Linked DNA regions of Homo sapiens. The protein of the gene in region 1 interacts with the protein of each later gene in a biochemical or structural test. Each region holds a gene or a part of one and is shown on either strand. Other genes may lie near its edges. The genes, in order: PINX1 and TERT.

What was found.
Region 2: the proteins of PINX1 (region 1) and TERT form a complex in vitro, tested with the Homo sapiens proteins (one study listed by BioGRID).

What each region holds. Positions count from the first base shown.
Region 1 is NC_000008.11:10,815,876-10,819,375, forward strand, and holds part of PINX1 (PIN2/TERF1-interacting telomerase inhibitor 1), read right to left. Parts: intron 1-3,500. UniProt on the Homo sapiens protein: Microtubule-binding protein essential for faithful chromosome segregation. Mediates TRF1 and TERT accumulation in nucleolus and enhances TRF1 binding to telomeres. Inhibits telomerase activity. May inhibit cell proliferation and act as tumor suppressor.
Region 2 is NC_000005.10:1,284,790-1,288,808, forward strand, and holds part of TERT (telomerase reverse transcriptase), read right to left. Parts: intron 1-4,019. UniProt on the Homo sapiens protein: Telomerase is a ribonucleoprotein enzyme essential for the replication of chromosome termini in most eukaryotes. Active in progenitor and cancer cells. Inactive, or very low activity, in normal somatic cells.

The DNA.
Region 1 (3,500 bases):
CACTGAGCATGGCTAAGTGCAGGAAGTAGATCATGGAAACGACAATCGGCCTTTAGCACTGGGTAGTGACCCCTGCAGATCTGAGCAGCCTCAGCATCAAACGGAGAGACCATGTGGTCTGTACACACGATATTCCACTCCTAATCAGACGATTCTGTCGGCAGCTGTGATTGTCAGGGTCACGGGCGGTGTTGGAGGGGTATGCAACTATGATTGGGGTTAGCACAAGGGAGGCCTTGGTGGTAATGAAATAGTTCAGGATCTTCACTGAGATAATAATGGTTACACAATCCACAAATGTGATAAAGGGGCACAGAGCTGTATGAGCAGATGGTACCAATGCCAATTTCCTGGTTTCATCATGCTGTACTGTAGTTACGTAAGATGTAACCACTGGGGAAAACCAGATGAAGGGTACACAGAACCCCTTTACTATCTTTGCAACATCCTGTTCATCTATAAAAAGTTAAAGAAAAAACCCTCATGACTATTAATCAAGGGCTGCAGATGTTTCTTAGATATAAATACATTCAGATCATCCAGTTCAATAGAGAGACGAAAAAATACACAAGCAACACAACATCTATGCTCCAGATGCTCAAGCTCTTTCTTAATTCAGCCTCCAGCCAATAAGGAAGTCAAGTCGTTCTTCAGGCTGGCCTGGACACCTGGTCACATGCTTGTCAACCCCTAACAGCTCACCTCTGACTACAGGTAAGGTAAAGAAGTTTTGAAATTTAAACCATTATTTTCCACAAAATAGCAACAGCCAATCATTTTCCCACAAAGTTACGATACAGCATCAACCACTGGTGTCTCTGGTGAAGCTCAACAGAAGCTGCTAAGGCCTAACTAACCCCCTTCAATGTAGATTTTTTGTTAAATGAGAAAGAGTTCATTAACTTCGGCAGGACTGCTGTATTATCGGAGAAAGGCTGATTTTGGAATTGGACGGACACAGATTTAAAAGCCCACGTGTGCCATTTTGGAGCATTCTAACAATTCTCTCTGTGCCTCAGTTTCCTCACTGCTACAGAGGAGATACTGATATTTACATGACGGGATTGCTGTGAGGATGAAATGAGAAAAATCCAGCACAGGGTTTGGCACACAGGTGCTTAATAAAATTGGAATTCTACGATGGCAGTCAGGAGCTGTAGAAATTAAAATCAGTAGGCTTCCCTTATTGCAAGGGTGATGCTGTTACCCAAGCCAAGAACATGGTTAACGCCAACGTTCTGGAACTCTGGATGCTGAAGACAGATCAGCATCGGCACCTAACTAGAGCACCCACAGAGCTACTGCTACCTTAGTGGCCCGCACTACCACGGTTTCCAGGACTCTGGAGGGAGGTGACCTCCAGCAACACCTTGGCCTCTGCAATGCCAAATATAAATCCAGACCGACGGAGCTATGAGAGTCAAGCGAAGCAACAACATACAACATTCCCGCCAACTGAGGATGGGAGCCGAAAGAGGTTGTATTTTCAAACAAATCTGATCAAAGTCCTCCTGCCTTTGACTATAAGGGCTGTTGTAACTAACAAGGTTAAGGTTTCTTAGCAATAGTCTACTCAAGGAAGGTACCGGTATACCTCAATAAAAGCAAACTTAACATATGAACATCCACAAGGATGTCAAAGATAAATGTAGAGGTCATTTTGCTTTATAGAAAGATACTCTGTTTGTCTTAAATGTGATTACATTTAAATAGATTCTGTTTTCTGCACACATGCAGGCATGTCAAAAGGAAAATACTGCCTAGACGCGACCTCCTCAGTGTGGCACACAGGTCAGCAGCAGTATCACCTGGGGGCTCCTCGGATGGGGATGTACAGGCTCTCAGCCCCCGCCCAGGCTTCCTGAGTTGGAATCTGCAGTTTGACAGGGAAGACCTGTACACACGGCAGGACTTGAGGAGCTCTGTCCTCAGGGTTACTCACGACCCGGAAGCCAGAAGCTCTCAGTACAGCTGCATGGCAGGCTATCCCCGTGTTCTCAACCCTCGCTCCTTACTGAACGTCAGAATAACTGCTGCAACAATTGGGGAGGAATTAAAAAAAAATTTTTTTTAAATTTTTCTCCTTTTGTAATATAGATACCTGGACCCTGACCGAAGATTTAATTTAATCGGTCTTGGGCAGAACCCTGGCATTAGCATTTGTTTAAAGCTCATTAGGCAATGCCAGGACGACCTTGTTGAGAACTATGGCTACAGACGGAGAGCAGGGCCTGGTAGAAGACCACCTCACCAACAGGTAGGACCTAAATTTATCACTGGAAGAAAACACTGAACTGGAAGAGAGAGAGAGATGTGACTAATGGAAATCTCACACAAAACACGATGTTGCATCAAGGTTGATCATCTCTACACACACTGGACCAAAAGAGATTTTCCTGGGGCTAGCATTAGGGAACTGCTTTTGAAGCTCCTCAAACACAGGTGGATGTCTCACTTTAACATGACTTAGCTACCAAAGAGTCAAGTAACACCACACAGTGTTGAAAACCTCAAGGCACCCAACACCCAATAAATTCTCAAACAGAAATCTGCCAGAGGATCAGAAACCTCTGATCTCTTACAACTAAGAGCTTTCTGCACCAAACACATAAATTCTCTTAAAGTTCTACAAAAGCCCACAAGTAACATTTCCCTCCCTGATCTGTTCAACTGTACATTTTCATAGAGGGTGTCCGGGAGGGCAAAGGCTGGGGGTGGTGGGTGAGCAGCAGGCAGAAGAGAGGATCAACGTGCAGGGATGTGGAAACGCCAGTACAGAAGGCACGTGAGCCCCACGGGGCTGGGGAGATGGGGGTTATCTCAAGGTATGGGAGGGACGTGGAGTTGATACAAAGGCTCAGGGTGTGATCGTGGGGTGGGGGCAGCTGTTGGGCAGAGCAAAGGAGATGGAGTTCAAGAGGCGCGGGACTGGAATTCTAGTTCTTCCTGAGGACACGGAGACGACTGAGAGAGTCAAGGAAGAGGGGTTGGAGAGGAGGCTGGGATAAGCCAGAGGCCATGTCCTTGGTGAACAAGGAAGAGTGGCGTAGTCCAGGTCTCACGGTGAGCACTGAGGGCAGAGGTACAACCAGAAGCCAGCCTGTCTGACCATGGCTCTTTCCAGCAGCCCCTTGTGAAGGAGCAGCCGGCACGGCCGGATGTCAGAGCGGCTCCTCCCTAGTGACCACTGCCTATCCCGTGACTCAGCATAGTCCGCGCAGGCACCAAAGCCAGGTATCCTTTCCCAGCCTGCTGCTTCCATCTGCTGAGGGTGCAGGGGCAGACAGGGGCTAAAAGACCCAGGAATTCAGTCCCAATCTGCACAGGGAATCATCTAATGAGACTTCTAACCACTGGTAATTCTGGACTCCCTAAAAATTATTACTATTAAGAAACAAACCACCACCCTAGAAATAAAGATTTCTGTCAGTCTGGAAAAATGCCAGGAATCAATAAACCAAGTCTTCTTTTTTGTTCTATGGTCACCAAGGGCCCTGGCT
Region 2 (4,019 bases), on another chromosome or scaffold:
ACTCACAGCAGGGCCTGGCAACCTCACCCCAGACCTGCACCATCCGGACACCGCATATCCAGCTCACCGCACGGTCTGGCACCGTCTGGCGACCTCACTCCAGACCTGCACCATCCAGACACCGCACACCCAGCTCACCGCAGGGCCTGGTGACCTCACCCCAGACCTGCACCATCCAGACACCACACATCCAGCTCACAGCAGGGCCTGGCGACCTCACCCCGGACCTGCATCATCCGGACTCCATACCTCCAGCTCACCGAGGGCCTGGAGACCTCACCCCTGACCTGCACCATCCAGACACCACACATCCAGCTCACAGCAGGGCCTGGCGACCTCACCCCGGACCTGCATCATCCGGACTCCATACCTCCAGCTCACCGAGGGCCTGGAGACCTCACCCCTGACCTGCACCATCCAGACACCACACATCCAGCTCACAGCAGGGCCTGGCGACCTCATCCCAGACGTGCACCATCCGGACACTGCACATCCAGCTCACTGAGGGCCTGGCGACCTCATCCCGGACCTGCACCATCTGGTACAACAGCCATGGCCATGGGAAGCCCAGCAGGTCCAGGCCGAGATGGCCACGCACGGGACCTACACACGGGATCCCGCAGACAAAGCTCAAAAAATGTCAAATGTCCTGTGAGTGATGCTCCCACCAATAACACCCTAAAATGATGAGGTGTGGACATGCTGGGCTTCAGTAAAATCTATTATTACATTAATTTCACCTTTTCTTTTTTACTTTTTTAATGTGGCTACTAGAATTTTTTTTTTTTTTTTTTTTTTTGAGACAGAGTCTCGCTGTGTTGCCAGGCTGGAGTGCAGTGGTGCAATGTCGGCTCACTGCAACTTCCAACTCCCAGGTTCAAGCAATTCTCCTGCCTCAGCCTCCCGAGTAGCTGGGATTACAGGCACCCGCCACCACGCCCAGCTAATTTTTGTGTTTTTAGTACAGATGGGGTTTCATCATGTTGGCCAGGATGGTCTCGACCTCCTGACCTCGTGATCCACCCGCCTTGGCCTCCCAAAGTGCTGGGATTACAGGCGTGAGCCACCGCGCCCAGCCTAGAAATTTTAAAATTATCCACATGGCTCACGTCATGCTCCTGTTGGGCGACAACGGCTCGGAGCCTCATCCTTTGTCCTGGTTCCCAAGCAGAAGGGAGGAAGCAGACACTCCCCCGCCAGGCAGCACCGTCAGAGCTGGCGCCACACCGCAGGTTTGCGCGATTTCAAACTCGACACCGCGGAGCCACCAGACCCCGACATGCCTGGGGTTTTCCAGGCTGAACCCAGGCCGAGCGGACGTTGCTGTCACTCACTGGCTAAGGAACGCTGGCCACGTGGTGCTCCAGACACTCACGGGCCAAGATGACCGCCCTCCTCGTGAGTCTCCACATCTTCATCTGTGCATCATAAGCAGAGGTCCCCGGACGTCGCTAGATGCCATGGAGGCCAGCACAGGTAAAGCTGGGGTTTACCAGCAATAACAAGACAGAAGAACCACGCAAAGGACAAGGAAGGGGACCCCAGACGGCGGGCCTGAGACAGAAGACAGACGGGGAACAAAGGAGGAAAAGCAGGGCGGGGGCAAAGCTACAGAAACACTCAACACGGAAAACAATATTAATAATGCTTAGCTTGTGGGGGTGTCAAGATGCCTGAGATAGAACTAAGTCAGCAGGGAAAACAGCACACAGGCTGGGGGGTGGCCAGAGCTAAAATACACTAAGGGTCTTATTGCTCAGGACAAGGGTAGCAATGTTTCAGACTTCATTTTAAAAGATCAAGGTATGCCGGGCACGGTGGCTTGCACCTGTAATCCCAGCACTGTGGGAGGCCAAGGCGGGCAGATCACTTGAGGTCAGGAGTTTGAGACCAGCCTGGCCAACATGGTGAAAGCCTATCTCTACTAAAAATACAAAAATTAGCCAGGCGTGGTGGTGGGCGCCTGTAATCCCAGCTACTCATGAGGTTGAGGAATGAGAACTGCTTGAACCGAGGAGGCAGAGGTTGCAGTGAGCCGAGATTGTGCCATTACACTCCAGCCTGGGTGACAGAGTGAGACTGTCTCAATAAACAAAAGCAAACAACGACAATAAAAAGATCAGGGGGTAACACTAAGCAAAGAGAAATAAAAGCAAATGCCCAGTGACCAGGAGGCAACGAGAGGATCAACACACACTCGGCAGGAAACGCACATGGCAACCCAAGAGGTGGTGAGAAACAAGGGAACGAGGACATGCAACAGGCAAGTGGAGAATCAGAGTGCACCAGGCGGGTCTCTAGTGACAAAAAAATGAAAATAAATCAGGTTATCCAGTTAAACAACGACTGTCAGACTGGATTGGAAATTCACCTACATGCTGTTAACAGGACATACCCACACTATAAGAATATAAAAGTGTTGAAAATTAGGCCAGACATGGTGGCTCATGCCTGTAATTCAGCACTTTGGGAAGCCGAGGTAGATGGATCCCTTGAGTCCAAGAGTTTGAGACCAGCCTGGGCAACACAGCAAGACCCTGTCTCCAGAAAAAATTTAAAAATTAGCCAGGTGTAGCGGTGCGTGTCTGCAGTTCCAGCTATTCAGGAGGCTGAGGTGAGAGGACGGCTCAGGCCAGAAGGTAAAAGTTACACTGACCTGTGATCACACCACTGCACTCACCCTGGGCGACAGACCAAGACTCTGTCTCAAAAAAAAAAAATATATATATATATATATAAATTAAAGGCAGAAAACAGACACAGCAGGAAAATACTAATCAAAAGAAGCCCAGTGTGGCAGTACTAAGAGCAATTTAAAAAAAGAATTACTAGATTACTAGAGACATAGAAGTCTCCAAAAGATTCACTCATCAGGAAGATAAAAATTCTACCACGTGCATGCACCTAACAATGCCTCACATAAATGCTACCAAACGAGAAGAAATGAACAGACCCATCCCCCAGGTGAGGGACTATGGCCTCCTTCTTGGAATTTCATGCATCTAGAAGGAGACAGAAGCTTTGCACTGGACCTTAATAAGCTGGATATAGTGAACATGCATGCCCACTATTGACAGGATGTCAAATTTACAATGGACAGTTCTGGAAACCATGCACACACTAGATCACAAAGCAAGGCTCCGCAAACTTCAAATAATTGGTATTATACAGACCACTACACAACTGAGTTAGAAATCAATAATAAAATGATAACTTAAAATACTCTACGTATCTTGATACTCTACATATCTTGAACATAAACAGTGTTCAAATAACTCACTGCTCAAAGAAATCACAGAATAAGCTAAAGAATACTTAAAAGTCACTGATATCAAAATGATTTCACGTCAAAACACAGCGTGCACAAAGAAAAAAATCACAGAATAAGAATACTTAAAAGAAGTATTAACACTTTGAAGTATTTTAAGAACACTTGAAAGTGGCTGATGTTGAGATTACTTCACATCAAAACACAGGGTGCAGGTAAGGCAGCACTTAGAGGGAAAGGCATGACTAAACTAAGAAGCTAGAAAAGGAATGAAAGAATAAACCAAGAAAAAGCATACAATGGAGAGATAGAAACGTCAGAGGTAAATCAGTGAAATTCAAAACTAAGACCCAAGAGGGAAGTCTGACGAAGGCTGGCGGAGACACCGGCCCTCCACGTGGGTCTCAGAGCAGGAGACAGACAGAGACACTCCAACCTGTGGCTGGACGTCAATCCATGTGAGGGGGCGACTGGAGGCAGAGCCCAGCCTAAGCAATGAGCGGCAGGTGCCCAGAATAAGGTGACAAGCGTTGCCACCCACCCAAGGGGGCCAAGCAGAGGGGCAGCTTGGGAGAAAACAGGACAAGTGAGGGGGCTGGGGTGACTTGCTTTCCTTCAGGGCACAGAGAACCCTTTCTGGGATGTCTCCAGCAACACGTGGCAGCAGACACAGGCAGCCCAGAGTCCAGCCTCGGCATGAGACAAGCTGGGAGAGGAGTATTGGCAGCATGCATGTGGCGGGCACGTGGTG